Linked DNA regions of Homo sapiens. The protein of the gene in region 2 purifies or fractionates together with the protein of the main gene of each other region. This does not show direct contact. Each region holds a gene or a part of one and is shown on either strand. Other genes may lie near its edges.

The links.
Region 1: the proteins of SPEM1 (region 2) and PRG2 purify together in Homo sapiens (affinity purification with mass spectrometry; 2 studies listed by BioGRID and IntAct, with this or other methods). This does not show direct contact.
Region 3: the proteins of SPEM1 (region 2) and PPP1R1A purify together in Homo sapiens (affinity purification with mass spectrometry; 3 studies listed by BioGRID and IntAct, with this or other methods). This does not show direct contact.

What each region holds. Positions count from the first base shown.
Region 1 is NC_000011.10:57,386,308-57,397,128, forward strand, and holds PRG2 (bone marrow proteoglycan isoform 1 preproprotein), read right to left. Parts: upstream 4,344-10,821; 5' UTR 4,289-4,343; exon of another isoform or gene 4,176-4,288; intron 3,650-4,175; 5' UTR 3,638-3,649; coding exon 3,580-3,637; intron 3,011-3,579; coding exon 2,703-3,010; intron 2,402-2,702; coding exon 2,270-2,401; intron 1,559-2,269; coding exon 1,447-1,558; intron 1,227-1,446; coding exon 1,168-1,226; 3' UTR 473-1,167; downstream 1-472.
Region 2 is NC_000017.11:7,416,093-7,425,829, reverse strand, and holds SPEM1 (spermatid maturation protein 1), read right to left. Parts: upstream 5,507-9,737; 5' UTR 5,446-5,506; coding exon 5,302-5,445; intron 5,204-5,301; coding exon 5,143-5,203; intron 4,950-5,142; coding exon 4,225-4,949; 3' UTR 4,198-4,224; downstream 1-4,197. Other genes in the region: uncharacterized protein SPEM2, read right to left, coding at 4-141; NLGN2 (neuroligin-2 precursor), read right to left, coding at 8,031-8,904, 9,723-9,737. UniProt on the Homo sapiens protein: Required for proper cytoplasm removal during spermatogenesis.
Region 3 is NC_000012.12:54,578,075-54,588,685, reverse strand, and holds PPP1R1A (protein phosphatase 1 regulatory subunit 1A), read left to right. Parts: upstream 1-26; 5' UTR 27-197; coding exon 198-281; intron 282-4,365; coding exon 4,366-4,426; intron 4,427-5,437; coding exon 5,438-5,475; intron 5,476-5,890; coding exon 5,891-5,954; intron 5,955-6,554; coding exon 6,555-6,710; intron 6,711-7,635; coding exon 7,636-7,742; intron 7,743-8,293; coding exon 8,294-8,299; coding exon of another isoform or gene 8,300-8,402; 3' UTR 8,403-9,440; downstream 9,441-10,611. UniProt on the Homo sapiens protein: Inhibitor of protein-phosphatase 1. This protein may be important in hormonal control of glycogen metabolism. Hormones that elevate intracellular cAMP increase I-1 activity in many tissues.

The DNA.
Region 1 (10,821 bases), on a different chromosome or scaffold from region 2:
TGTCCTGTGTCCCAAGATGAACCCAAGAGTGAGACAGTCTGGCTTTCCTCCCCCCGTGCTTCATCCCCGTGTGACCATAAGGGGAGAGTAGCCAGCTGTAAAAGCACAAGGGTTAAAGTAACATGCTTTGGAGCAGAGTTGAATTTCAATATGAGTTGCATTTAGAGGTTCAGTCTTGGGCAAGTCTTTTGACAGATCCTAACTTCTCTGAGCCTGGTTCTGTAAAATAGGGCTCATAATTATTGATCACATGAGGTCATCTAGGCAAGGTGCCTGCCACAGCAGGGGGTATGTTGTGGGTGCTCAATAAGCGATAACAACTAGTAGATGTTTTTGTGCCTATGTTACAAATAACCATATATCCCAAGTGCCAGAGGACTATGTCTTGTATTCCCAGGCCTCATTCAGAGTCTGACGCATGGCAAGCTGTCTTATATCAGGTTTCCCCAGAAGGAGATCCTGAGAGAGGGAGTTGCGTACAAGTGTTTATTTGGGAGTTGCAGAGAGTAGGAAGGAGCAGAGAATGCAGTTGAGGAAGGGAAGGCAGCCCATAAAAATGCATGGAATAAGGCCAACTACCACAGCAGGCCACTGGGAAATGGTGCCCAATACATGTTAGATTTATTCCACTTGAGGGGCCGGGGATTGCGGTACTTATACATTCATTCCTGAATGTTGTGGACTGTTCCCAGGGACATGTTAACTTCCTTACATATAAAACCAACCACAGTTCTGGGGTTGGAGAGAGAGAGAGAAAAGGCCTTTGGTTACAGAGATGCAAACTGGGCCATTGGGAGTCTACCTACAACCTTGAAAGGTCCTGGCAGCACTATGCAGGTGCCCAGTAATCAGGTGTTCTATGAAGAGAACTAGCTGAGCCCATTCCTCCATCTCCAAAAGGCTCCATAGACCCAACTCCACCCTCCATCCTCCTCCTCAAGGAGTAGTAGCTTCTGACACTTCTATGAAAGTTGTGGTGTGGGGAGAGATGATAAGGAAGAAGTTTCAATGAGGGCTAAGCAGAGTGGATCCGCGATCAGAGGAGAAAATAAATCCATTTCAGTAAAACCCATTTTATTGCAGGGAGGTGGAGGGAGGGATGGCAAGCAGAGGAGGGGAGGCAGCTGCCCAGGAGAGGGCAGCTCTGAACTGCTGGCTGGGACCAGCTCAGTAGGAACAGATGAAAGGAAGTCTTCTGAGGCAGTGGGCTCGACGCCAGTGGCCTCCTGTGAAGGCAGAACAGAAAGGGACTTTCAGCCTCTTGTCCATCCCAACTCAACCCACAGGAGGGCCTCTTTTCCCACCCACACACTGCTGTGGAGTCAGAGTATATAAAAGACCCAGGAAGCCTCTCCCACAAAGGGTCAGGCTCTTTGTAGCATCTCCTCCTTGGGGCACTTCCCATCTCCCAGACCTTTCCATCGTTCATCCCCAGCCCCACCTCACCTCGGGTACACAGGGCCACGCAGTGACCACCGCGGGACCAGGGCTGGTGAGCAGCCCAGTATGCAAAGTTCCAGCGGCTGCCGTCAACCCACTGAAAGCGTCTGCAGCGACCCTGGAGAAAGCAAGAGGGGAAGAAGGGATGGGGCAGAGGGAAGGCAGAGAAGCAGACCTGGCCCCGTATCTGCCAGCTCTTTCTGCTGCCCACCGGGCAATGGGCCCTTCCCTGCTGGACCATGATGGGAACTGTCCTAGTCATCTGAAATGCTGATCCACGGCAATTATCACCATCAGATTCTATGCATCCCAGTGACAGGCTTGTCCTTCCAGCCCTAACAAAAGGTAGAACAAGGGTTGCCAACTCATCCTAGAGATGAGGAAACAAACTCATGGTCTTGTTTTAATTTTTTTTTTATTTTATTTATTTATTTATTTATTTTTGAGGCGGAGTTTCGCTCTTGTTGCCCAGGCTGGAGTGCAATGGCTCCATCTCGGCTCACCGCAACCTCTGTCTCCCAGGTTCCAGTGACTCTCCTGCCTCAGCCTCCCAAGTAGCTAGGATTACAGACATGCACCACCATGCCCAGCTAACTTAAGTTACATAGATAGTGAGAGATGGAAAGGAACTTGGACCCAAACCTCCTGATTCTAAATCCTTAGCTCTTCCCTGAATGCCCAGGCAGCCCCCTCAGTGTTGTCTGTGGGTGTCCATCTATCCCTGGTTCTTCTGGAGATTATACAGGAGAAAAACAGACAAATCTGATGCAAGCTGAGTGCTGGCTGAGATCAGCAGGTGCACCCCATTTAGTGTTCACACTTCTCTTACCGAGCCTGTGATCCTGCCTCCAATCCAGACTTGACCCTGGTTGAGCGCGCTGACAGAACACTGGATTCGATAATTAATATTGAAGTTGTGGATGGAAACCAGGTTGCCCCTGTAGCACCTCCGGCAAGTAAACTACAGGGCAGGATAAAAGACAAAGAATGGAGCATCCTTCCTACATGAATTCACATGGGTCTTGAGTCCCCACAATTCATTCCCTCCCTCCCCTGCCACAACCATTTGAAGGTTGGAGACCAAAATGCAACTTCTGTTTGTAGGTGGCCCTCCCCTCTTACCCCAACACCTCTCTGAGGCTCAGGTTCTACTGACACCCCCAGGGCCCTCAATGGGAAAAAGAGCCAGTGATAGCAATGCTGGGGGCATATCCCACACCCGTTCCATGCTCCCACCTCAGCCTCAGCCATAGGCCACTCACCCAAGCTTGACTAAACGTCTGAAGACTTCTCACCAGGAGGTAGCGGCAGGTCTGGCACCCAGGGATGCCCACCACTTTTACTGTGTCCTCTTCCTCAGGACACGTAAGGTTTTTGTCCACCATATCTGGCACTGAGATAGACTCAACAGCCCCATCTTTCTTGGAGGCATCTTCACTTCCAGAGCCCCACTCCTCCTCTTCCTCCAGCTCCCTGCAAGGGGTCTCCTCCATCTCCTGCTCTGGTGTCTCCTCATCCTCAGGCAGCGTCTTAGCACCCAAAGGGGTCTCAAAGGTGGAAGTCTCAGACCCTGGCAGGGAGGATAGCTAAGTGTCCTTCCTTCACATCTCCCCTTGTTCCTCCCCAGAACCACAGACAGCTCACACCTTGCCCTGGGCATCAGAGTGCTCAACTCTGCCTGGGAAGGGGAACCTGGAACCCAGTCTCTATGAGGGGAACCCAAGCTGCCTGACAAGGTCAAGGTGGTTAAGAGCATGGACTTAGAGTCGGGCAGTCATGGGCTTGGGTACTGGTTCCATCATCCACCAGCTGTATTTCTGTGAAATGGGTATACAATACCACCTACTTCATGGCGATGCTAAGAGAGTTAAAGGAGAGAAGGCACTCAGTAAGCTCAAAGTAAGCATAATGGAGAAAGGACAAAATTGGGAATGTCACAGTAGAACCAAGACCACAGACATAACAGACGCCTTGAGAAATCCTTTCAACTCCTGGCCATAGAGTCCCCATCCCTTTAAGCACACAGAAATTCAGAAATAGAAGACGATCAAAGAAGGGGGTGGGTGTGTAACTCTGACCCCATCTACCATAGAAAGGGAAAAAACAGAGAAAGAAAGACTGAAGGCAAAAAACACTTACTTAGATGAAGAGCAGAAACTGCCCCAAATAGAAGAGCCAGAAGTAAGGGGAGTTTCATCTTGGCTTTATCCTGCAACGGAGAACACAGTTTGTCATTGACACACACAGACACACATGCACACACATCACAATCACACCATTAGGGGACCGTGGGAGTGAGGTGGAGAAAAAGAAGGCCTGAATAGAAATCAGGATGGGCCAGAAAAGCTCATGCCAAGCCCAGCTCCTGATGCTCCAGGATCCAGGACGCAAGGACCTCTTTCTAAACAGAACGCAGCAAACCCTGAGGGGTGGCTGAGGCTGGCTTTCCTTCAGGCCCGGAAGTAAAGAAGGGACTATTACGCTTATTTGTTTGTACTTAATGGGTCCCTCAGAGTCTATGACATAAAAAAGGCGGGAGAAGCAATGATTATTGGCTTTCCTAGGAACACATAGGACTTAGAAGGTATGTCCCCTCCTCAGAGTTCAAGAAGCCACCCACACCCTCCTCCATGTCTCCACCATCTCCTTTCCCCAGCCAAGGAGCACTTTCACATCCCGCAGAAGGAATGTGCAAGGCAGAGGATGAAGGCTGCCCCTGCTGACATCCTCATAACCTGAAAGCCACAGGTAGACGCCTGCCAGCCCTCCAGAAACTGTCAGCCACAGCCAGGGACCTCCTGGGAGAATAAACTGTCACCAGCTCCACCACAGCAGAGAAAGCACTCACCCACCCAGAGACCTTCCTGGGTCTTTAGATCTTCCCAAAGCCCAGGTCCTTCTTTGCTTCCTCTCACAAAGACTTCTTATATAGAGGCCTTGGAGGAACTTCCCCCAGGGAGAGAGAGTTTGCCTCTGTCAGAGGGAGATAGCAAGGCTGATAAGGACCATTTCATCACTTCCCTGGGGAGCCCACTCATTCATTCAGTGAAGATTTCTCTCCCGATACCCACTTCAGGAACCCAGGGGCCATCTGGAACAGCTCTGGGCAATGGTTCTTATCCTGGGCTACACTTCAGAATCGCCTTGGGTGCTTTTCCAAAATACATATCTCCCCTGTTTTACTGGTGTTTTGAACTGCCACAAACATTTTGAGAACAAATCTGTCCATACCTATTAAAATAAAAAAATGCACATTTGATCAGTTTCACTCTTTTGAGACTATCCTTTAGGCATAAATGCGCCTATAAGTAATAAAACTTTTACAGAGTTATGTTATTCCTTGACTATTTGTAGAAATGAAAACAATATTGATATCCATCAATCGGACACTGAGTAAAATGTGTCCTCTCTATTCTACAGAATGTTATATGGCTATGAAAAGAAGAGCTGGACCTGTATCTATAAACCTGAAGAGATGTTTCTGTGACATGAAGTGAAAAAAGGCAAGATACTGAGGAAAGTATTTAGTATGTGAATAGTTTTACAAGGAAAAAAAAAACCCCCGCATAGGTGCTTATCTGTGAGCATCCTTATGTGACCATTGATGGAGGGAATGCTAAAAGGAATCACACCAAATAGTTGACCTTGTTGCCTCCAGAAGCAGGGGAGGAGAGGGAAGAAAGCAGGAGACAGATTGTTGTTTATCTTCTTTTTATAACTTTGCATTTCTTCAGTGGTTATGGTAAATGCGTGCTGAATCTGTAATTTTGAGGCTGCCTTATTAAAGATTTTTAAAAATATGCAGATGCCCTGCCCAGAAACTTCTGCTTGGCTAATAGGTCTAGCGTGAAGGTCAGATGTCTGCATTTTTTTAAAAGCTTCCCAGCTGACTGTGATGGAAGATGGGTCTAGGAGTCACTGTCCTGAGGATCTTCAAGTACAGGAAATGTTCACGTATGTCTAACTTCTTTCCTTCTGAATCAGACCACTCAGTTGGCCAACCTACCAGCCTTCATTATGGTAACATTTACTGAACATTTTTAAATGCCATGCATGGCAAGTGGCTGGATGCAGTGGCTCATGCCTGTGATCCCAGCACTTTGGGAGGCTGAGGTGGGTGGATCTTTTGAGGTCAGGAGGTTGAGACCAGCCTGGTCAACATTGCAAAGCCTTGTCTCTACTAAAAATACAAAAATTAGTCAGGCATAGGGGTGGCTGCCTGTAATCCCAGCTACTTGGGAGTCTGAGGCAGGAGAATCACTTGAACCCAGGAAGTAGAGGTTGCAGTGAGCTGAGATTGCACCACTGCACTCCAGCTTGGGCGAGAGAGTGAGACTCCGTTTCAATCAATCATCAATCAACAAAATACTGTTCATGGCAAGTATTACCTCATTTAACCTGATTTTAAAAACCTAGTGAGGTAGGTGGTTGATACCCCATTTTCCAAGTGAGACAACCCAGGCTCTGTGTGGCTCCTGATCTCCCCGCAACACTGCCCTTATTGGATCGATGCCCTGTATACACCCTCTTGTAGCTCCAGGGGCTTGTCCTTATCAGTTAGTCATTTTACTTTTCTTGTGAGATTACTTGGTTAATGGATTAACATCTGTCTTCCTTCGTGATGGTGAAGGCTGCATCTCTTTACTCACCATTGTATCCTTGGTGCTTAGTACAGTGCCCGGCACATAGTAGGTACTTAATAAATATACATTGAAGTAATTAATGGTTAAGTAACGTACTCACGTAAACAACAGGGTTAGAATTCAAATCCAGTTCTTTCTGGCACCAAACTTCTCTCCCCTCCCATATGCCTGCTTGTGTGTCAAAAATGATGCTATCCAGGTGGAGATAAAATCAGAGTGAAGCATAGATCCTGTATTCAATTAGCTTACAACCTAATTTGTAAGATGAGTAAATTGAGGTCAAACAAAAGGAGAAGGGTTAAGACCAAGCTAGGAAACATCCTCTGCTAATTCAGAAGGAAGTCCATGCATAGTAAAACAGAGCAGAAAAGGCTCCATGAACCAAGGAGCTGATTCCTACCTGGATGGAAAGATGCAATTAGAAGGGAAGGAAACAGGCATTTCAAGTAGAAGGAACAGCTTGAGCAAAGGTGTGGAGGTTGGACAGCCTTGGTATATGCACAGGACACTGTAATTTCCTTCATAACTAAAGTTAACAGTACACACATTGGGAAGGAATGAGAAAAACGAGGAACGATGCATTTCATCTTGAGCCGAGGATGGAGATAACCCTCCCCTGTCTCCATTGATTTAAAAAGACAGAAGCAGGAATCAAAGGAATACTCAACAAGAGCCTAGTCAGGAGCTTTGAGCTGGGCTCTGCGCACTCCCATCTGCAAGCCCTCCCCACAGGACCTCTTTGGCTGTTGGACAGAGGATTACTGTCATAAGGTGATGAGAGGGAGCCCATTCTTGGAAACCAGTTGACTGTTCAGGGACCCTCACTCCTAGGGAAGTCTCTCTTTTAGGTCATACAATCCAGGATCTGAAATCCACAGCTTAGCAACCCTGAAAATTTCATCAACATTCACTGGAAGTATACAGCAGTGTCTGAGAGGGTGGCTTCTGGAGTCAGACAGTCCAAGTCAGACTCAAATTGACTGGGTCTAGCACTTAATAGCTGCGTGTCGTGTCCTGGGCAAGTTCCTTAAACTTTCTGTACCTCATATCATCATTTATGAAGTAGGGATGACAATACCTACCTCACTGGGTAGTGTGAGAAATGAATGAGATAATTCACATGTAGCATGCATGCTGTGAGCTGCCCAGTCACCTCACCCCTTCCTGTGGTTTCTTGGATTCCATTTCCTATGGATCTTGGTGGAGGACAGGCCTCTCATTTTTGAAGACAAAAGTTCCTAATAGATTTTCAGCTTCCTTTGCAGCTAACGCATATGACTGGGCTCTATCAAAGAGAAGAAGCATCTATTCAAGATTTTGAATCTGGAGCTAGTGACCAAAAAGATGGAGGCCAAGAAGGCCTCTCTCTGGCGGTGGCGTTGACAAGATTGAGTTCCTGGAGTTGCAGTACCCACAGAGGCACTGCAGGATACATTGATCCAGGGTCTGAGCCCTACAACATCCTGGGTGCCAGACACAAGGTCTAGGTCTCAGCAGCAGTGGGATCCTCCCTAGACCTGTTCTGCAGCCTGACTTTGGCTCCATGTCTGGTTTTCCGGCCCTTCCTGCAATTTCATGAGCTACTCCGTTTCCTTTCAGTCCTGGATTTTTCTACTTAGATCAGCCAAGGAGAGTTTCTGCTGCCTGCCATTAAGAGCCCTGACTGATGCAGCATTTAGCACAGAAACTGGTATTTAGTAATTGCTTAGTAAATGAATGCTACCCAGGGTCTTTGAGTGTGACCAGCATTAATCAAACTTTCAAGAGACTGATGTCTACTTTTGGTGCCAATGACATAAATGAGGTTGAACGGTACTCACAAGGGGCCCACTTGCCCAGGCTCTCTGATAAGCACATTCTTTCCCTGCATCACAACTGTGGTGTGCTCAGGACTTGAATTTCAAATGGGAGCGAAGAGCTGGAGGCCTTGGGGTCCAGTGCCTTTGAGCAAGAGAACGATACCCATCATCTCCGTTTAATCCTCAGCCCTGCCTCCTTCCCCAAGAAATGTTGACTCATCACTGCAGGATCCTGAATCTTAGGCATCCTCCTTTCTAGCCCTAAAGTTACTACAGAGCTTGGAGGTTCCTAAACAGACTCAGTCAATCCTCTCCATACCAGCACTTCCAAAGGGGACCTGACAGATCACCTCTGCATTTAATCTTTTCTGATCTAATTCTCGGGGGGCTCATCCCAACTTTAGGCTTGTGGGGGAGTGTGCTGTAGCTCCTGGTACAAGCTGTCCAGGGTCAGACCTGGTACTGAGGGGTCTGCTCTTCTACAAGAGTGGGCTGTTGCAACAGGAGAAAAACATGTGTGCACCAGGCAGAGCAGAGATCACCTTGGAGATGGTGTCAATACCAAGGAGCTCTTGGGATGCCCCTCCCATGCCCAACCCCCAACACATGACAGCTTAAAGACTAAAAAAACCACCACAGCTCCAGATATGCAGCTCACACTATTCAGCCCTCACCTCCACCTGCATCCCTCCCCACACCCTGCAGCAGAGCTTTTCAACCTGGAAACTATGAATAGGCTTCAAGGGACCATGAACCCTGCAATTATAGAAAACATGGTGTGATGTTTCTAGGGTGAAGGTCCAAACCCTCCATGAGATTCTTTGATGACTTCCCAAAAGGCAAGAGAACCTCTAACTTTACTGAGTGATTTTTTTCTGGAAGAACCAAGAATGACATTCCACTGTTCTTCACCAATAAAGTCCTGCTTGGCCCTTTTGACAGGCAGAATTCAGTTGTCCCCTGGTGCACTGTGCATAATCCCTGGGACTGTAAATATGATGGATTTTACTCCTGTGGTTGTGTGATGTTACATGCCACAGTTGACTTTAAGGAAAAGGAACTGCCCTCTATGGGTATGATCTAATCAGGTGATCCCATAAAAGAGACAGGGCTCTCTTCCTGAAGTCAGAGAGTCCAACCATGTGGGTGATTCAATCCAAGGGAAATTCTCCATCACTGGCTTCAAGGATGGAAAAGACCACGCACGTGGCAAGCAATGTGGGCAGCCTCGAGGACCTGAGAGCAGCCCTCATCTGACAGTCAGCAAGAAAACAGGACCTCAGCCCTGCAACTCCAGGGAACAGAATTCTGCCACAACCACGTGAGCCTGGAAGAGAACCCTAAACTCCAGATGAGCACACAGCCCAGACAACATCTTGATTTTAGCCTTGTGAGACCCTGAGCAGAAAACCTAGCCATGCTGGGCCCACACTGCTGATGAACTCACGATGAGCTAATAAACATGAGTTGTTTGAAGCTGCTAAATTTGAGGCAATTTGTTATGCAGAATAGAAGACTAATACAGCCCTCAAGGCCCATCTCCCTCCCACGGTGAAATTTACAGTGGGTGTAGGGATTGGCAGAGAAGGGTCCCACAGGAACGGGCTGAGGAGCTGCTGGAAAATAACGAAGGTACAGCAGAGAGGTAAGATGGACACTGAGAAAGGGAGGTTTGATTCAGGCCAGAGATCCCACCATTCTCTCCCTCAGACCATAGGAAGCCAGGTGGCCCTTCTAGTTACATGTTCTGCTCCAGGATTCTCTCCCCACCCTCAGAAAAGTGACAGACTCCAGGGACCTGATCTCTGGGGCTGATCAACTGCTTGTTAACTGGGCTTGGCCAACATCCCCACGGGGCAGATAAAAGCTGGTGAAAGAGCTAACGCCACTGCAAGGGTGAATGGCTCGGGAGATATGGACTGGGCGGTTGTTCTGTGAAATCGGCCTGGACAACAGTTCCCCATTTGGATGCCCCAACAATTGACATAGACCAAGACGATTGGCATGTGAGATCTGGAAGGCCCCTTAGAAACGAACCAGCACAGTCCCCACGTCTCAGATGGGTTCTTCCCGCTTCCTCAGGAAGTGACATTATCCTCTTTCCCCTCCAGGAACCTCTGCTCCCAGAGACCATGAACACTCAGTGAGCTTAGAAGGAATATGTCTTTGCAGTAATTGCCTCCCCTGCCCCATCTTCTACCTTCCCCAGTCCGTCTACTTCTCCCTATCTCTGCTGCCACCTCACTAGCCCCTGCGACCATATTTGATAACATGTATCACAGGCCATTGTCCCCATGCTTCCCATTCAAAGTCTTCCCACATAGTAGCAATTAACCCAAACCCATTACCACCATCTGCAAAGTCTTTCATGATCAGGCTCTTGTCTACAAGCTCAAACTCACTGGCATGACAAGTGACCCTTGTCATCCTGGTCCCAGCTCCACTGGCCAAGCTAAAGCATTTGTACTGGTTAAAAGGCCACCTCCTCAGATAAGCCTTCTCCGAGAACTCTTTCTAAAAGAAGCCCACCCACCCCACTCTCCTATTTGGTACTTTTGTTACACATCATCACATTTATTTCCACAAGAACATTTACCAAAATGATATAATCTTGCTTTCTTACTGGTTTCTTGTTTATTATCTCTCTCCTTCAGAAAGCAAACTTCATGACAACAAGGACCTTGTCTGTCTTGTTCACTGCCTATAACTCTGCCCAGGTCATAGAAGGAGTTTTTCCATTACATAATGAATTAATTAATCAATTGACTAATCAACTTGAACTTTACCCCCTGGAGAAAGTTTAGCTGAGTTTAGATCAGAGCACACATGCATTTATTTCGATTCTACAGGTATTTTCTGAGCCTCATCCACCATGGACACAAGCCTCTACCAGGCTCTGGATCATCGATTGATTCATTCATTTATTCAACAAATACTTA
Region 2 (9,737 bases):
GACCATAGTTGCCACGTTGATGCCAATGTTGACAAGAACGATGAGGCCCAGCAGCAGGAGTAAGATGTCCTCGGCATCGTGGGGGCTTTCTTGGTATTGATTGCAACATCTCACGGTGTTATGCCATAGCTGGTTTTCCATGGAGGGGGGGTCCTAGGGCCACCTGGGCCACCCCCCTCTGCCCCCCACCCCCGGCCCCAACCCACACTGCACTCATGCCAATCCCCGGAGATAACTACAAGCTGGTAAGGGAGCCAGGTCACAATGAGGTGAGCTAGCGAGAGTCACAATGTGGAGGTGGCAGCTTTTATCCATTCTGCTGGCCCCTTCTACCGCCATCTCCACCCTTGGCTCCTACTTGGTGGAGCCTGGTCCCCACATATCCCAGATCTCAGTCTGTTCCTCTATCTCCACGAGGTTTGCTTAACCCCACAGCTGGTTCCTGAGCTGAAGATAGGGTAGTTAGAGGCTGACACGGTCGTCACAGGGTTGAAGCATGCATCAGATATGTCCTGTTTCATTGTTCTTTTGAGACATTATGGCAACTTACATAGCCTGTTGGCGTGCCTTGCCCCATGGTTACTTTGGGGCCAGCATCTAGGGTGACTAGATGGGCGGGTGACACTGCGTCCCCTCAGGCATCACCCTGCTGTACCAGCCCCTCCCTACTCTGCCCATTTCCCTGTCAAAAGTCCTCTAGCTCCCATCTCTGCCCAATTCTTCCTGGCCAGACTCCAGCCCTAGGTGTTGGTGGTCCTTGAGCCCACCAGCCACTTCGTCACACTGACATCTGACTCACTGAGGTGGCTGCCTCTGCTGGGAACCAACCCCAGCCATGGTTTCTCCAACCTAACCACCTACACTCCCACCAACCCACCCTTACTCCAAGGTGAAAAACGGTTAAGCTACTACCTGAAGAAAACCCGAGCTGGGCGCGGTGGCTCATGCCTATAATCCCAGCACTTTGGGAGGCTGAGGTGGCTGGATCACCTGAGGTCAGGAGTTCCAACCTGGCCAACATAGTGAAACCCCGTCTGTATTAAAAATACAAAAATTAGCTGGGTGTGGTGATGCGCGCCTGTAGTCCCAGCTACTCGGGAGGCTGAGGCAGAAGAATCATTTGAACCCAGGAGGTGGAGGTTGCAGCAAGCTGAGCTCTCGCCATTGTACTCCAGCTTGGGTGACACATCGAGAATCTGTCTCCAAAAAAACAAGAAAGGAAGGAAGGAAGGAAGGAAGGAAGGAAGGAAGGAAGGAAGGAAGGAAGGAAGGAAGGAAGGAAACTTGCTGGGCGCAGTGGCTCACGCCTATAATCCCAGGCAGGTGGACCACCTGAGGTCAGGAGTTTGAGACCAGCCTGGCCAACATGGCGAAACCTCTACTAAAAACACAAAAATTAGCTGGGCATGTTGGTGGGCGCCTGTAATCCCAGCTACTTGGGAGGCTGAGGCAGGAGAATTGCTTGAACCTGAGAGGTGGAGGTTGCAGCGAGCCAAGATCGCGCCACAGAAGTCCGGCCTGGGTGACAGAGTGAGACTGTCTCAAAACAAACAAACAACCCAACAACAACAACAACAACAACAAGAAAACCACATGAAATTAACAAAGCACAAAATACATGTAATTGTTAATATACCAAAAAGAGTGTTTGACTTAAAACAGGTGCATCACTGGGGTCTGTGGTGCCCTGGAGACTGCAAGCCATTTGTTTACACAGTGAACCACTCAGCAGAAAGAAAGGCCAGTGATCATATCCCATCCAGCCTCCAAACACAGAGTAGATGCAGAGTAGATTCAGATTCCACTGAATGGAATCCATTGAAAATGATCAGTAACGTTAGTTGAATGAGAGAAGTAGGGCCATTTGTAAACGGTCCGTCTGCTCACATTCCAGGAATCTGTCTAGAGTGGAAGGTGAAGTCCAGCTCCCTCAGCCTGGGCTCACGCACACAGCTGCTTGTTCTCAAGTGGTATGTGTGTGCATGTGCATATGATCCCAATTGTGTAGCAGAAAGGCAGGGCCTGAGTTTCTCTGTTTCTCAGTTTCTGAGTTCACATGGTGAACTGGGGAAGGTGGGAGGTTCTGGTGGGTCAGGCTGGCTCTGCAGCAATGGGATGGAGCATCTGAGGCCATGAGCTTGATCCTCAGTGTCTGTGTAACCATGAGCAAGACCCTTAGCTTCTCTGAACTTAGTCTCCTCACTGGTGACATGGTGAGTTAATCAAAGGAGTGAGGTCACAGAGAGCTGTGATGTTACAGTGAGGTACCTCTTGAGGGGGGCCCCAATATTTCTCTTCTTTTTTTTTTTTTTTGAGATGGAGTCTCGCTCTGTTGCCCAGGCTGGAGTGTAGTGGTGCAATCTCGGCTCACTGCAAGCTCCGCCTCCTGGGTTCACACCATTCTCCTGCCTCAGCCTCCCAAGTAGCTGGGACTATAGGCGCCCACCACCACGCCCGGCTAATTTTTTGTTTTCATATTTTTAGTAGAGATGGGGTTTCACCATGTTAGCCAGGATGGTCTCAATCTCCTGACCTTGTGATCTGCCCGCCTCGGCCTCCCAAAATGCTGGGATTACAGATGTGAGCCACCACGCCCGGCCTTTTTTTTTTTTTTTGATGGAGTCTCGCTCTGTCGCCCAGGCTGGGGTGCAGGGGCGCCATCTTGGCTAACTGCAACCTCTGCCTCCCACGTTCACACCATTCTCCTGCCTCAGCCTCCCAAGTAGCTGGGACTACAGGCGCCCACCATCATGCCCAGCTAATTTTTTTATTTTTTATTTTTCATTTTTTAGTAGAGACGGGGTGTCACTGTGTTAGCCAAGAGGTCTCGACCTCCTGACCTCGTGATCCGCCCGCCTCGGCTTCCCAAAGTGCTGGGATTACAGGCGTTAGCCACTGCGCCCAGCCAAGGGGGCCCCAATATTTCCTCCTCTGCTCCAATCCTGCTTAAGGGTATAGGACCTTCAGGGTGACTGGGGAACTGTGAAGGACTAGACGCCCTCTCAGCCATCCCTCCCCAAATAAATCAGGGCTTACGTGGGAACCAGGCCTCACCGGTGGCTGCAGCCTAACGCTGGGCTCTGGCAGGCACCAGCCTTCTGAGGAGCTAGGGCCATGGAGATGGAGATCTCTCCTCTAGTGCACGACTGCCTGGGGACCTGGGGTAGAATTTAGGGGCTTCTCTGTGCACTAAAGAAAACAAGGAATTAACTGGGCGTGGTGGTGCCTGTTGTCCCAGCTACTCAGGAGGCTGAGGCAGGAAGACTGCTTGAGCTCAGGAGGTTGAGTCTCCAGTGAGCCATGATTGCACCACTGCCCTCCAGCCTGAGTGACAGATCAAGACCCTGCCTCAGGGGAGGGGGAGGAAACAGTCCGGGCACAGTGGCTCACACCTGTAATCCCAGAACTTTCAGAGGTTGAGGCAGGCAGATCGATTGAGCCCAGGAGTTTGAGACCAGCCTAGGCAAAGTAGTGAAACCCAATCTCTACAAAAAATAGTGGTGCGGCTGGGGTGGGGTGGCTCACACCTGTTATCCCAGCACTTTGGGAGGCTGAGGCGGGCGGATCACCTGAGGTCAGGAGTTCAAGACCAGCCTGGCCGACATGGCAAAACCCCATCTGCACTAAAAATACAAAAATTAGCAGGGCATGGTGGCACACGCCTGTAGTCCCAGCTACTCAGGAGGCTGAAGGCAGGAGAATTGGTTGAACCTGGGAGGCAGAGGTTGCAGTGAGCCAAGATTGTGCCATTGCAGTCCAGTGTGGGTGACAAGAATAGGACTCTGTCTTAAAAACAAAAACAACCCCCCCCACACAAAAACCAACCAACCGAACAAACAACAACAACAACAACAAACTAGTGGCCCATGCCTGTAGTCCTAGTGACTCAGGAGGCTGAGGTGGGAGACAGTTGGGACTGCAGTGAACTGTGATTGCACCACTGCACTCCAGCCCGGGCAACAGAGAAGACCCTGTCTCAAAAAAAAAAAAAAATTGAAAACAAGGTAGAGGCAGGTAAGAGCCTTGGAACCCAGAAGGGCCTAGGAAAGGCTGAGGACAGGGACAGGCCTGTGGGGCAAAAGGTTAATGAGGGTCCTCAGGGCTCAGGGCCCTGTGGCTAGGGAGAGCATTCTCTTCACAGCCACAGCTTCTAGGTGCTGTGTGGGCCCTGGCACCCCAGCACCACCACAGATCACCTCCTCTCTCCTTTTTATTTTTTTCCAGTCACCTCCCAGTTAGGGAACGGTACACCCAATTCTTGCTTGTCTCCTCGGCAGTGCTGGATCCAGAGGCTAGGGGGTAGCAGCCGGACAGGGCCTCCACCTCCCGGGTCAGTTCCCGAAGCCGCCGTCTCATGTCCCGGGCATCATACACTATTCGGCCTGAGGAGCGGTGCCGGGAAAATTCAGGGATGACTGCTGGGCCCAGGGTGGGAGCTGGGACAGGCTGGTACTGAGCCGCCTCTGCCTCTGGCACCGCCCCCTCCCCACCGTTCTTGTGGCTAGGAGCCTCAGGGCTGGGAGGTGGGGGGTTCACAGGATACACATAGGCCCTTAGGCCCAGCTCGGACCATATGCCTGTTTTGAGGGGCCTTTCCTCTACGGTAGGCTGGAAGCGGATGGTCTGGGGAGGGGACTCTGGGGCATCCTGAGACCAGGGAACCCAGGTCCCCTGAGTGTGTTGGAAGCCTTCCCAGTCCTCAGGGACATCCCAGTGGTAGGAGCAGATGGCTGGGTACTGATGAGGCTTCTCGTCATCAGTGTCAGGAGCCCAAGCTACTGGGCAGTGAGCACAGCGTGTGGGAGAGCCTCGACGGCGATGGCGGTGAGCTGGGGGCGGGGACACAGTCATCATCACAGGGTCCATGGTGCACCGAAGATGGACTGCAGGAGAACTCTGCTTCTTAGGGGGCTGGGTCTGCTTTCTGAGTAATGATGACTTGGGAGCTTCTGTGGATGGGGGAGAGGTGAGACTAGTGGGGAGGCCAGCTCCTACAGGCATGGAGAGGCAGGGCCCAGGAAGGGCAGCCACACAGCTATGTTGTCTGAGAGGGGCGAGCAAGAAGGGAAGGGGCTAATTTAGGGCTGAGGCTAGAGCACTTGGTTTCTGCCCCTCCTATGTCCCAGCCCCCAGACCTCTTACCTTTCTCACAAATGGTATCATGGAACACTTGGTATAAGACACCACGGAATCGGCTCCAGAGCTAGGTGGGGGAAGACACAGTGATCCCAGGTAGGCCCTGGCCGGCAGGCCTGCCCCCCACTATCCCACCAGCTCCCTCCCATCTGGCCCCACCCTGACCAGGGTCACTATATTGATGCTAATGTTAATGCAGATGATGAGGCCCAGCAGCAACAGGACAGAGTTGCCCAGGTCCTGGCAGCTGTTGCTGTTGCAGTTGTGATACGAGGCCCACTCGGGCCTCGGCCGCTCAACCATGGCCATGGGGTCCCTAGGACCACCGGGGCCCTTACGCCCCCAGCCCACCGTGCCGACAGTGTCCACTGACTGCCTGCCTGTCCCTGAGGGTCTTGGGAGTGAACGGGTCACAATGGTGCCAGGCCACTCCCTTCCAGTGTGCCAAGGGGCTACCCTGAGTCCTGGACCCGTGGCTGACCCTCTCGCCTGAGTCCAGGCCTTGGCAGAGGCCATGCCTCTCACCTCACATACCTCTGCTGAGCTAGCTGCCTACACCAGCCCACTGGGCCTCTGGCCTGTTTGACATCTGCCCCCATCAGCCTTTGTCCTTCCATTATAGAACGACACCAGGCTCCAGTCTCGGCATAGACACGGGTCCTGACATTCATTTGCCAAACAGACCCATTACCATGGCAACCAGACCCCAGCACACACTCCCCCTTCCTCTCAGACCTCAGAGCTGGTCACTGAAAAGACCCCTCCTCCCTCGTCACTTCCCCAGGGCTTGTTTCTTTAGAGACCGCCCTCCCCACAACAGAGCAGGCACAACCAACAGTTAAACTTTTATATTTACAATATTCTCTTCATCTTTTGCCAGGTTTAAAAATGTGTACAGAGCCGCAAAGGGTTGGGGTAGGGATAAGGGATTGTCGGGATTGTTTTGGGGAGAGGAGCTGGGCATTGGAGTCCGTGGCTGAATCATGGGGTCCCCCAGCCCCCCTCCCATGCCCCAATTCTGAGGGCATCTGTCTACAGGGTTCAGGGCCCAGGTCTCTAGCATTTGGAGGGCATGGCTGTTTGGAGAGGAGCTAGACCAGGCAGGGGAAAGGATCAGAAAATAACTAATTTTCCATGGATGGAGGTAGGAAGAGAAGGGACAGTCAAGAGGCAAAGTTCTGGGGACTCAAGACCAGGGATTCTGGATTTGGGTGTCAGTGGAAGACAGCACCCCAGCCCCTATTCAAGTTTGGCACTAACACCCCACAAAATGCCAGCAGATGAGGACTCTCCCCTCGTCCACTGTGTCCCTTAAGCCCTTCCAGACATCATTCTTTTCCCAAATGCCCAAGCCCAAGGCCCTCCGGGGAGTCACCTCACACATTTCAAATTATTCCTGCTGGTGTCTGCCCAAGCCCTGTCCCCACTGCCCCCTCCATCTGTTCCCCAGCACCGCTGACCTCATTCTCCCAACCTGTCCGGTGAGACCTTTCTCCCCACTGCCTCCCTCCACCATTCAAGGCTCCTTTCTTTCAGACAAGGAGGGGGCGTGGGTCAGAGGAGGGTGGTCAGCTGAGGAGAAGGCTGGTCTGACACTGAGATGGGGACAGCTTCAAAGAGGGGGACGGAGATGAAGGGGAACGGAGAACTGAGGCAGGGTGGGGGAGACATGGTGAGGAGAAGGGGCACAGGCGGGAGCCCCCTCACCTGCCACATCCCTCGCCCTGTATCCTGCTTGCCCTTAGTTTCCCCTGCCCTGCCTGGGACTGGGAAATTCTTGGCACATTTTGGGAGTCTTTCCGCTCAAATCCACCTACCCAGTTTGGCACGGATGAGCAATGCTCTGAGGCCTGGGGAAAAGGCTGTCCTCGGACCACAATGAGGGCTTTGGTCAAACATGCGTGGCCTCTGCGGGGGGCACGTTGCCACACCCCCTCCCCCCAACTCGGGAGCAAGGGCCGGGCCTCCCTCGGGGTTTGTTCACCCTCCTCAGCTCCTGCCAACTAGAAGTCTGTGCTCACCTGCCATGTGAGGAGGAACTGGGTGCTGGGCCTGAGGCCTGGGGGAGGCAGGGAAGTGCTGGGAAGAGAGGGGCCGTCTGCCTGGGGAAACACACATCCACATGCAAGAACCTGTTTCCACTCAGAGAAATGCGTCCTGGCCACGGGAAAATAAGCTTCCAGGCAGCATCAGGATGCGTGGACTCCTCCCTCCCCCAGCAGGAAATCTGTGTCTGTCCTCTCTGGAAGGTGAGGGCCTCCCCGGCAGAACGTGCTTCATCTGACTTGTGCCAAGGGGGGCGTCGGGGGGAACATGCTTCGCCGGGGTAGGGGCAAGGGAGGCAGGGGCGAGGGGGCTGTGATTTCCTCGCTGCTTCCCAGGCTCCATCCTCTGTGGTCTGGTGGCCAAGGGTCACTGTATGTGAACACACCACTTCCAGGGTCTCCAGGGGGAGGGAGAGGGGAGGAGGTGGGAGAAGGGATGGGGGAACAGGATTCTGGGGTACAAATCCCCACAGAAATTCTTTGAGGGGGCCAACATGTGTCCAGGGTGGCAAAAAAAAACCTCACCCTGCACATGGGAAAACACACCCCGTTGTGAGAAAGCACACCTCCACGCGGGAAAATACCACATTCCACACACCGAAGACTGGTGTCCCAATGGGGGGGAGAAAACGCCCCCCAGTTGTTCAAAGGCCCAGATCCAGAGAAGAGACTGGGCTTCTCTGCGTGGGAAAGACACGCATCGCAGGGAGGAATCCCATGTCCACCTTAGCGCTGCTGGATGGCGTGTGACGACTCCACAGGAGAAAAGCCAGTTGCCAAGTCCTCCTCCCTGCCTTCGGAGTGGCCGGGCCAGGGAGGGCCGGGGAGGAGGGCCTCCCCACCCACCCCCTATACCCGAGTGGTGGAGTGGGGGTGGGGTAGCGTGTTGTTGTGGCTGGTGGCGGTGGGAGGGGGCGGGGGGAAGGGCCCGAAGGGATGAAGGGAGGGGGGCGGTGGGGGTGGCGGTGGCCCCAGGCCACTGGGCAGCAGGGTCAGGGCCCCGGGGGCCAAGAGAGGCACATCGTCCGGTGCCCGGCGCAGGGCCAGGGTGTAGTCGGGCGGGCAGGCAGGGCGCAGAGCCTCGGCAGGGTCCGCCCCGACGCCACCACCCCGCTTCAGCTGCAGTGACACCAGCTCCTCCTCTGGTGGCAGCTCACGGCCCGCGGCGGGGAGCAGGGGGCCCCCACCAGGCACGCCAGAGCCTGAGCCGCCAGGTGGGCTAAGCCGCCTGCACCGCAGCTCCTGCCGCCGGTCCCGCTTGTAGTAGAGGGCAGCAAAGGCCAGGATGTTGAGGAAGAGGAGGGAGGCACCCACGGCCACGGTGACGCTCAGCTCCGTGGAGTAGTCCCGTGAGTCCCCGGGGAAGCGGTCATAGGCCCTTGGGCCGGGCTCGGGCTCGGGCTCGGGAGGCAGGGTGGCAGGCGGCGGGGGCCGGCGTGTGCCCGGGGCGCCAGCGGGGGGACGAGGCGGCCAGCGCGTGGCGTAGGGAGGCAGGCGCGTGGTGGTGGTGAAGAGCTCCGTGTGCAGGTTGTGCAGGTGGGGCACGAGCTCCAGCCAGAAGGCCACCTTGTTGGCGCGGTAGTTGTCACGCACGCGTGGCTTCAGGCCTATGTGCAGATACTGCTTCTCCTTGCTGTTGAATTTGCTCCACACCACCTCCTCGAAGCGATTGGGCTTGGTGTGGATGAACTTGGTATCCTGCGGCACCGGCTGGTTGGGGTCCCTGTGGGCACAGGAGGGCAGGGAAAGGAGGAGTGAGGGCAAGGCTCTGAAGGAGGGTGGATGGCAGTGGGCAGGGAGACAGACAGAGATGCAGAGAGACAGGGGGACAGCAAGAAAGCCAGAGAAAAAGTCACAGAGGCAGAGAGACACAGATGGATATGAAGAGACAGAGAAACTGCCTGTCTCTTCAGGCAAATAGGCAAATAGGGATGGAGACAGACTGGCAGAGACAGCCAGAAATGCGGGCAGAGGGGCAGGGACACACACAGAGATAGCCAGGGAGAAGCAGAAGCTGAGCCTGAATGAAACACAGACAGGGTCAAAGACACGGGAGGGACAGCCAGAGACAGATACACAGCCAGGCTGAAATCAGCCGGCAGCCAGAGAAAGCGAAAAGTAAGCAGACAAAAGAGAGCAGCAGAGGGAGGTGGAGAGCTGTCAGTGGATTTTCAGAGAGACAGAGACAGAAGTAGAGACACACAAACTCTTACACACACTCAGACACACACACCTGAGCAGTCAGCCAGAGATGCAGAGCCCTAGGGGGGTCGGGCAGGGGGGATCAGGCAAGGAGGAGGGAGAGACAGACGCCAAGCCAAAGCCACTGAGTGGGCCCCCAACTCCCCAGAAAGGACAGCGGCTTCTCTGTCTGATACTGCTGAGTCTCCAACGCTCAACTCCGTGCCTGGCACAGAGGTGTCTGGGTTGGTTTCACTCGAGCAAGAGGGCAGGCCAGAGTGAGTGCCTTAACAGAGGAACGGCGGCCATGTGAAGGAGGGAGGGCCCCGCCCAGCCCCGCCCAGCCCCTCTGGCCCTCACCCAGTCTTGGCGAAG
Region 3 (10,611 bases), on a different chromosome or scaffold from region 2:
CGGGTGCGGAGCCAATCGGCGGCGGCAGAGTCCCCGGAGCCGCGAGCTGGGAGCGCTGTGCCGGGAGCCGGGAGCCGAGCGCGCCGGGCTGGGGCCGGGGCCGGAGCGGAGCGGAGAGGGAGCGCGCCCGCCCCAGCCCCGAGTCCCGCCGCCTTCCCTCCCGCCGCAGCGCGGGCCCACCGGCCGCCGCCCCAGCCATGGAGCAAGACAACAGCCCCCGAAAGATCCAGTTCACGGTCCCGCTGCTGGAGCCGCACCTTGACCCCGAGGCGGCGGAGCAGGTGCGGAGCAGGGCGGGGCGGCAGGGCACTCGCCCAGCCAAGGACGAGGGACCCCTGGACTGGTGGGACCCAGGATCCCTGCCTAGTCCTCCCTTAGCAGTGCGCCCTTTTGAGGACGAACGCTCAGTTTGCGGGGGGCGGGGGGGGGTCTTCTGTCCCCTCCCCCACCGTCGGAGCCACATCTCGAATCTGTGCTTCTTTGAGACTGACCGAAGGAAGAGCGCCTCCACTCGATGCCTGGCCCCGCGAGAGTCGCTCTCTTCCTCCCCAGTCCTGGGGGAGGGGGCCTGCTTGAGGACACGACCCCTCCCTCCTTAAACAACCCTGCATCCCCCACCCAGTCAACCCCCACTAGAGTTTCTGAGCTTGGTGGTGGCGCTGAAGGGAATCAGCAGCAGTGCGGGAGGGGCCTGGGGAGGGGTCGGTAATGGAGAGGGAGCCTGGAAGGGTGGGAGTTGGAAGAGGAGAAACAGCTCTCCCTGTCCCCTCCTAACTGGGGGCCACCTTGCTGGGCTCCGAAAGTGATAACAGGAAGGGACTGAGGACCACTGAGAGGGCTGGGGCTCCAGGGAGAGGGGAGAGGGGTGGTCGAGTTGTAGGCTGAGGCTCCCTTCTTCAAGTCTCCGCACATGGCCCTTATTCCCAACTCCTGCCCTTTGGAGTGGGGAGTCCAGGTGGGACTGAGCCAGCAGCACTGGGAGGCCAGAGGTGGAGTCTTTCCAGGGGCTGGGGTCCAAGCTGAACAATATGCAAGGGAGAAGCACTGTGACAGCCTTGGCTCAAGGGGTGGGAGTCCAGGGCCCTGGCCCAGCCTCCTAGCCTGGTCTATTTTTAGCTCAGAGCAGCCTGGCAGAGGGGGCAGTGTATGAGAGTGTGTGAGCAAGTGTATGCCTCGGTGAGAGTGAGCGTATGTGTGGAGAGGGTGGCCACCCGTGGTCCTTACTACTCCTTGTTTGCCAAATATTTGCTTATTTGCCTATTGCTCCATCTCTTTGTAATCTCTGTCCATTTGCCTAGACATTCCCATTCCTAAAGAATATCAATTTCCCACAAGGTCAGTTCTCTGTTTCTCTCAACAAGCTGCCAGGCTCTGGCTGGCCACCCCCAACCTGAAAAAAACTTTGTGACCTCTTGGGATGAGGTGGAGAGAGTGTTTTTTGTCATTTTTGTTGCTCCAGCTGTTTGGTAGAATAAGGTCTGATGTGAAGGGAAGCGGGCAGGGGTACACACTCTCCCTACCACTTCAGCTTCCCAATGTGGAGATAGGGTTAGGTACCTGCGTCTCCGTCCTCTCTCTGGCCTGGGGTGAGCCACCACCTCAGAGCTCTAAGGTGTGACTACGGGAAGGCTCTTGGTGAAGCCTCACAAATCTGTAGAGGATGAGGAGGATGGAGAGCCATCAGCATGGGTTGTGTTCCCTGGGAGTCAGGGGAAAGGCTGCTATGCCTGGAGGCAGGGCATCAGCCAGGATAACCTCAGACCCAGGAAAAAGGGCTCAAGAGTCTGGACTGTGGAGGTTGGGGATGCAGTTCCAAGGAGAACTGCCTCCCACTGGCACAGACAGGGCCCGACACCTGTATCTGTTGGGTGTTGGAGGAGGCAGGTGTAGTAGGTGGGTAGGGAGGAGGAGGAGGAAGGCCAGCTGGTTCAGGGATCTAGGAGACAAGGGAGGGGCACAAGGCAATCCTGAGGAGTCAGAGGGAAAAAAGAGAGCCGGGACTTGGGCCTACTTTCACTAATCTTCAGAATTTGTGTCTCTTAGGCCTGAAATTCTTCCTGTGGCCTAACCTCAGCCCCTCCTGCTGTGTTAGGCAAAAAGCTCCAGGCTTGGCAGGTGCTCCTAACCCAGACCAACATGGGAGGGCAAAAGGAGTTGGAAGCTCTGAGTTATAGAGCACAGAGTGGCAGGCGGTGGAGGGGTGCCCACAGCTTCCAGATCCTTGGCATGACTGCTTTGGAAAGAAATCCGAGGCGAAGTTATCACATGCTCCTGAGAGCTAGGATTTGGGATAGGTATGAGAAAAGGAAAAGAGACCATCTACTTATTTCCCACTAGTTCAGGTGCCTGGGAGGTACCTCAGGAAGTCTGACTTTCCTCCTTCCTGCTGTAAGGGTATCACGATTCCCAAGGACTCTGAATGCTTAGAAACCTTGTCCAAAGCAAAGGAATAGGTCAAGGAAGTGATGTGTCCAAGACCAGACAGCCCTGCTGCCCTCTGTCATACTTGCAGTCTCTTTCTTGGGCTCCCCACTCTGATGTTATCTCAACCCACTGATCGCCACTCCACCCTCCTTGTCTCTTTCCTACTACCACCACCACACCCTGCCCCTCCAGGATGGAAAGAAGTAGAGGAGTCTTCTAGTTGAAGGATGGCCCCCACCCCATATACATGAAGCAGATGGTCCCCAGCCCATGTGTATCAGGAATGACCAGAGACGACTCACAGTTAATGTCTGTGCGGCTCATCCATGTGCACACTTACACACATACACAAAGGACTGGTACTGCGGGGACCTTGCAATGTCACCAAAAACAGATGCCACTGAATTCTCCTGGGAAAATGATGCCCTACCCCCACATACCCCCATTCTTTGCATCCTGTTTCTTCTTTGGAAAGAGTTCCCCCCTCAGGCTTAAACAGCCCATCTTACCATAGCCAGTACCCCCCACTTTTCTGGGCATAGAGAGGGGCAGTGTTCACCTCTGTCATCCCCCCACGGCCAGTGGTGATGATTCTAAATAATGGACATGCAAAGATAAGGGTTTGATCATTCAGTGTCCTCATCCTACTCCTCTCAGCCCAGGATAATTCTAGCCCTTTTCCCAGCCCCATTTGCCTTCCCTCCCCACTGCTAACCTAGAGGGTCATCCTCTAACCCCCATCCTTCCACTTGCTTCCAAGCCTCTAAAGCCTCCAGAGAAAGGGGGAAAACTACACCTCCCAGGAGTCCTTGAACTGACTTCAACAACAATCAACTTTATTGGCAGCGTGACAAAAGAACAACAGTGGGGGGAAAGGGGGCTCAGAGGCAGGGCAGTCAGTCAGCTTTATATGTTAATTTCTTAGACTAGGACCTGGAGCCTAGGATAAGATTTTTCAGCTACGCTTTGGGCCCTGACCAGGGTCCTGCCTAGGGCTCCTCCTTGTATTGATATTATATCTACCATGACAAGGATTCCCCCAACCCCATTTCTTGACAAATCAGAAAGGCAATGTATCCAAGGACAGAGAGGACATTAGGGAGTGAGGGGCACAGGCCAGAGGAGATGCACGTTCAGATCCTCCTCTGTGCTGTCCTCCCAGGCTGGGGGGCGCTTGAAAAGGATGCTCTCTCCAGGCGCTGTCACACAAAATGTTAACATCTTGCTTGGGGAGTGGGTTAGAACACTGAGAGAAAGCCCTGTGCCCTCTTAAGTTATTTCTGACCATTGATCCAGGATGGACGGAAGGACAGCAAGCCAGAGATCAATGCATTAGAGCAGATATGCTTAGATGGAGAGCTGGGGCCAGGACCAGGGGGAGGTGGAGAGACAGAACAGGGGAATGGGGGCATGCAGGGAGGCGAGGTGGTCTTCTGGATCCTTAGGATTAGCTCTCCCCAGGGGAGGGGGAGGAGCCCAGGGATGTTCACCCTGGTTCACCAATGTAACATGGCATTTTTTTTTCAACTTTTATTTTAGATTCAGGGGGGTACATGTGCAGGTTTGTTACAAAGGTTTATTACATGGTGCTGAAGTCTGGGATATGATTGACCCAGAGAGTGAACATAGTACCCAATAGGTAGTTTTTCAGCCCTTGCCCTCCTCCCTCCCTCTCTTTTATTCCCCAGTGTCTATTGTTCCTATCTTTATGTCCATGAGTACTCAATGTTTAGCTCCCACTTATAAGTGAGAACACGCAGTATTTGGTTTTCTGTTTCTGCATAAGTTTGCTTAGGATAATGGCCTCCAGCTGCATTAACATGGCATTTTTTGAGGTGTGTTAAGTAGGCTAGCCTGGATTATGTTACTGAGTGGTTTTGGGTGGGGCTTTGATGCTTCCACGTGTACTTGACCTCTTCCCCATTTCCCACCTTCCCTCAGATTCGGAGGCGCCGCCCCACCCCTGCCACCCTCGTGCTGACCAGTGACCAGTCATCCCCAGGTAAGCCAAGGGATAGGTTGCTGAAGGGCGTGGGGGCCACTATGGCAGCAGGTCCCAATGAGAAGATGGGCGCTAGATGGAAGAAGAACAGCTCTGAGAAGGCGGGGATGTCCTCAGTACTGAAGGCAGGAAGGTGGTGGCTAGATTGCAGAATATTCTTTGCTTTTGGAAAGATGGAGCAGTTCTAGGAAAGGGAGGGAGACCACCTGGCTCCTAAGCCCCCCAGGAATTGGGGTGGTCAACTGAGTGCTGGTTGCTGCGACAACAGCCTTCCAGATTTCTCCAGCAACTGAGATGCTGCCACCCCCACCCCCAGAGGCAGTGTCAGCTGTGAGGGGGAGGGACCGCCTCCACCAGCTCTTCACAGCCCCCAGAGGGGGAGGGGAAGGTTAGAAGCAGCTCAGGGAGCAGCTGAGATTCTGGTCACCAGCATCCCCATCGAGGTCTGGGGAGAAAACAAGTTCTCAGAGAATGGTAGAGAGCTTGACAGGAGTATGGAAGCGAGGGGGACAGGCTAAGAAGCTAGGCTGGGGTTCAGGATGCCGGGGTCTCCAGCTTGCCTCCAGCTATACCTTCCAGACCCTGCACAGAATAAATTGACTGTCCTCTATCACTGTTCCCTCCTATGCAGGGCTTAGTTCTGGCTGACCCTGGGGTGGGGGAATGATTGGAAAGAGAAAGAGACATGGATACTTCAGAGGAGGAAAAAAAGCAAAAAGACTACAGATCCTGCCTTTGGGGATCTCCAGGTCTGAGGCAAAGATGCAGACGCAAATTGACCACAGAGCCAAGGACGGGACTAGATGCAGAGGGATGGAGGCAGCGGAAGCACAGGAGAGGAGCTTCGGGGAGGAGGTCTGGGGCAGCCATGAGGGCCAAGAGCCTGGGGGCAGATGTGAGGGACAGATCAGGAGGAGCATGGCTGCAGAATCCCCTCCCCTGAGAAGTCAGCTCTATGGGGATCCCTGGTTTCCTGTCCTTATCACCCTCTCCTTTCCCTGTTCCCTTCAGAGATAGATGAAGACCGGATCCCCAACCCACATCTCAAGGTGAGCTGGCCCATCCCACTAAGCCCAGCCCAAAAAACCCCCACATTCATTAGGGGATTATTCCTTAAAACCCTGCCGCCCATCTCTAGGATCTTTTTGACTCCCGCTTCCCTGTACCTCTACCCCCCAAATGTGCATGAGTGAACATATACACATGCACCCCACACACACACACTCACATACACACACACACTCACAGTCTCCTTGCTCACCATTGTCGAGGTGGTTGGGGAAGCAGGCGTTTTCTTACCCCACTTTTTGAAGCTCACACCTACCCCAGGCTCCAATCCAAAAGCCTGGCAAGGCAGAGGAGGAAGGCAAGGGGGGCTGGAGGGCATGGGGGGCTAGAGGGCAAGGGAGGGGTCTGGAGAGCAAGGGGGGGCTGGCGCCCATCTGTGCTCTGTGCCCTTCACAGTCCACTTTGGCAATGTCTCCACGGCAACGGAAGAAGATGACAAGGATCACACCCACAATGAAAGGTTTGCAAGACCCCTCCCATCCCTTTTTCTCCTCTGTGCCTGAAGCTGAAGAGGAGACCGAATGCCCTTTGGAAGGGAGGTCGTTAAATCTGCCTTTATTATGGTAGAACTGTTGCTAGACGAACTGAGGCTGAAATCCCAGTTTTGCCACTGACTAGCTGGGTGATCTGGGAGAAACTGCTTAACTTACTGAGCCTTGAATACTACCTCATTATGGCAGATAAAATAATATATGTGAACTCACCGGCACAGTGCACAACATGTACAAGATACTCAAATTTTTCTTGAATCTAAATTGAGCCTTTCCACCTTCCCCCAGGGAAGACCATGTATCCCAGCAAGTGAGGAGTATCCCTTGTTCTTAAAGCCTCTTCTCCTATGCCTCCCTTATCTGTGAAGAAGAGTACTTTTTATGGTCTAGTTTTCATTCCTCCTTATTGCCAGCTAATGTCCCCTCCTTGTTCAGATCTCAGTGGATGGGAAAGTCAAACACCCAGCAATGTGTGCTGAGCCTTTAGTGGGGCTGTTGAATCCGGAGGCCCACAGGGGAGACGCTAGGCAGTCATATCCAGTGTTCCCTCCCTTTCTCTGTGTCCCCAGAGCTCCAGATGATGGTTGAACATCACCTGGGGCAACAGCAGCAAGGAGAGGAACCTGAGGGGGCCGCTGAGAGCACAGGAACCCAGGAGTCCCGCCCACCTGGGATCCCAGACACAGAAGTGGAGTCAAGGCTGGGCACCTCTGGGACAGCAAAAAGTATGTTCAGGCTGGGGAGGGCCCCAGGCATCCTATTTCCCAGCCCAGCAGGAGGCAAGCCTTACCCACTGCGGGGAGGGGAAAGAGTTGGAGCCTGGGAGAGGCCTAGTAGTAGGCAAAAACTGTCTCAAGGATATGGATCTGTTGGCATGTTCGGCATATATTTGAATCTTCACTTTTCCTTACTGAGTGACACCAAGCCCTCCCAACTTGAACCTCAGAGCCCCACTGTGGCTACATGGGGGAAACCCACCTTCATGGGAACAGCAATCACAGGCTAGAATCCTGGCTCGGCCACTTGCTACCTTACCAGCTGAGAGGCCTTGAACGACTTAACCTCAGGGTATAAAATGATAATGAGGGTGCCTGTTGCAGTGGGTTGTGTGTGACTATTAAATGAGACTGGCTGTTGACACAGCACCCGACACACACAGAGCATGCAATAAGTGGAAGCTGGTAGCAGTGCGCTATGTCCCTTATCCTAGATATATTCCAGAATTCAGAATGCTTCCAATTTTATGAAGATATAGTACATAAACTGTGTATCGCATAGTATTCCCGGCAGAGAACCCTACAATCAAACACATAATATTTCTGCAATCCAGTGAATGGTCTCACTAAGCAGAATAAAGACTAAAAACAGCCTCCTATGAGTTCATGTCAGGTTTAGACACATATTGAGTTTTGTTTTTTAAACTGTAGAGGGTTTATTCTTTCCAATTTGATTGAAGATTTTTTAAAAGTGAACATATAGTAGTAATTGTGATCAAAGAAAACCCTGTTGGTCTTGCCTGATTGCACCCAACTTGGTCCTGGGGCCCTCTCAGGGGCCACTGGGGTATGGGTGCAGTGAGGAGAAGCAGTTCCCTCCCCAACACCTTTATGAATGCCACCTCTTCCTCCCACCCCTATGTTCCCTCCCCAGAAACTGCAGAATGCATCCCTAAAACTCACGAGAGAGGCAGTAAGGAACCCAGCACAAAAGAACCCTCAACCCATATACCACCACTGGATTCCAAGGGAGCCAACTCGGTAAGACCCCAGGGCTGGGCTGCCAGGTCATAGGAGAGGAGGCTAATATTGTGGACAAAAGCAAGGGGCTAATATTTGGAGTCTAGGAAAAGGAAAACAAAGAACCAGCTTCAGTCCCTAAAAAGTTATTCTTTATGGTAAAAGGACTTGTATCTCCTCTGACAGACAAAAAGAAATGGATAGCTGCAGCAAGAAGGATTGAGATTAGACTTTGTGTAGGACTTCTGGCTCCTGGAATGGGTGAGAGCAGTAGGCCATGGATTTTTTGATAAAGGGGATTTGGAACCCGAAGGGAGATCCTCACCTGCCCAGCTGAAGTGGGCAGTGGCTCTCCCTGCCTGGAGGATGCATTGATGAGATAACTTCCTGAGCTTTGATTTCATAATCCGCAGCCCCCTGCATAGACTGGACACAGGAAGGACTGCTCTCAGACATCAGAACAAGCTTTCTGAGACATTAGATGTTGACAAATGGGATGGCCAGAAGGGGAAGGGACAAAATGACCCTCTGGCCTCTCACCTTCTCTTTCTGTCCCCTTTCCCCCATAACAGGTCTGAGAGAGGAGGAGGTATCTTGGGATCAAGACTGCAGTTTGGGAATGCATGGACACCGGATTTGTTTCTTATTCCTTCACTTTTGGGGAAAATCTCTTGTTTTTAAAAAGTGATAAATTTGGTGTTAGGTCCTTGGCACTTTCCTTCTTTTCCAACTGGGAGAATCCTTTCTCCCTGCCTTCTTGCCCTGCCCTCTCTGTAGCCCCCACCCTCCTGCCAAGCTGCCTCTGGGAAGGAAGAAACAGGAGCTAGGCAGAAGCCTTGAGCAGGGAAGAGTTCTTCCCTTAGCCCTGACTTTACTTGCTGTGGGAAGAGAGATGAGGGTCAGATAGGTGGGAGGACTAACTTCCAGGGTGCCAAGAAGGAAGAAAAGCCCCAGGTTCTCTTTTCTTATTGAGGAACGATCCGACCACCTCACAGGCCTGCCCTGCAGCTGGAAGACTCGGCGCTCTAAGGCCTGTGCCGTGTCCAGCTGTGACTGTGCGGTGGGCTCCATCTGCTGGACAAAAGGGGAACTGCACCATGGCACTTGGCCCATGGGAAAGAGGGTATGGTGGTGTGCCGATACCTCCTCGCCTGCCCTCCAAGCCCCAGCTGCCTTCCTTTTGGATTCCCAAGCTTCAGGATGTGTTCCCTCTTCCAGCTGTGGGACCGCTGTCCCTTATTTCAACCCGTTAGCAACAATGGATAGAGAACACAGTGGCTATTAATGAAGAGGCCCATGCTGGAGACTGGAAGGGTTCCCTTGTCCTAGACATTGAGGGGCCCAGATAAGACCAAAACCAAGCATAAGAGAAGAAACTGTCTCAGATCTCACGGCCAGGCCTCTCTCCTGCTGCTGTTTTTGATTTTCCCAGGTAGTGGGAGAGAGGAAAGGAGGGAAGGCAAGATTCTTTCCCCCTCCCTGCTGAAGCATGTGGTACAGAGGCAAGAGCAGAGCCTGAGAAGCGTCAGGTCCCACTTCTGCCATGCAGCTACTATGAGCCCTCGGGGCCTCCTCCTGGGCCTCAGCTTGCCCAGATACATACCTAAATATATATATATATATATATGAGGGAGAACGCCTCACCCAGATTTTATCATGCTGGAAAGAGTGTATGTATGTGAAGATGCTTGGTCAACTTGTACCCAGTGAACACACACAGTCAGGCCTGGTCTCCCTTCTTTATTGTTCTCTGGCTATAGCAGGGGTCTGGGAAACCAAGGGCAGGGGTGAGTCACATGCGTCTCTGCCCTTCTCGGGGTGGGGTAGGGTGGAAGTACCAGGGTAGCAGGTCTAGGAGACCATGGATGTGGATTTCGCATGAACAGGGCCCACTGTACAAATGCATGGTTGGTATTTACAAGAAAGAAGGAGGGCAGTCACCTGGACTTTGGCCTTTCCTGGGGCAAGGTGGGGGCAAGGAGGAGCCTGAGGAGAGGAAGGGGCACCGCGCCTGGCTGGGTTCTCTCCAGAGGACAGGAAGGCAGCAGCCCTGAGCCCCTTGTCCATCTGCCTTTCACCGACTACCCCTCACTTGTCTCAGGGGAGGAGCTTCTTAGTGCCTGCAGCTGGGCCAGTTCTGGGACGTGGAGAGGAGGGGACAGACCCTCTCTTTTAGCAATGCAGGATTACTCACCCTCCCCAGGCACCCTTGACCCTAACCCAGCTGGTGTCGATACATTCTGAAGGTGCTTTGCTGGGGAGATCCTCAAAGCACTTTACAGACATTGGTCGGATGGAGCCTCCCAGCCCCAGGGGAGAGGAAGGAGGCAAAGGGCTCCGGACTCAGGGCAGGCGACAAGCCCCAGGGGCCCAGACCAGTCCCAAGGAAGGTCCCAGGAAAGGCCTCCCGCAGCCCCTGGTCACAATGGCTCCTTTTGCCCCAGTCACTGTATCAGAAAGGGAGGGAAGGAAGATTCAGAGGATCAGGCTGGAGATGGGGCTGAAGCAGCGCAATTCTGGGGTGAAGAGGATGTCCTCTCCACCCCATTCCCAGGTCCTAGAAAGGTACCATGCCCTGAAGGAATCCACTCCCCTCCCCACACATAGGGCTCTGAAAACCCCCAGCTTTCTATCCTATTCCAGCCCTTCCCAGGGGAGGAAAAGGGGCACCCAGACCTGCCAGCTAAGATCTGGGGTGGGGGGCTGAGGGAACCCCCAAAATGTATTGCTTAGAAACTTGGAGGCAAAAAGGATGGGGGAGGTCCCAGGGGGCTGGCATCTCTGACCCTTCCCCAAGGCCCTGGGAAGCCTCCAGGAAGCTCCCCGCTCCCTGGCAGCCACCTGGCCATGAAGAGAATCCAGAGGCTGAGGGATGGGCACAGTGACCACT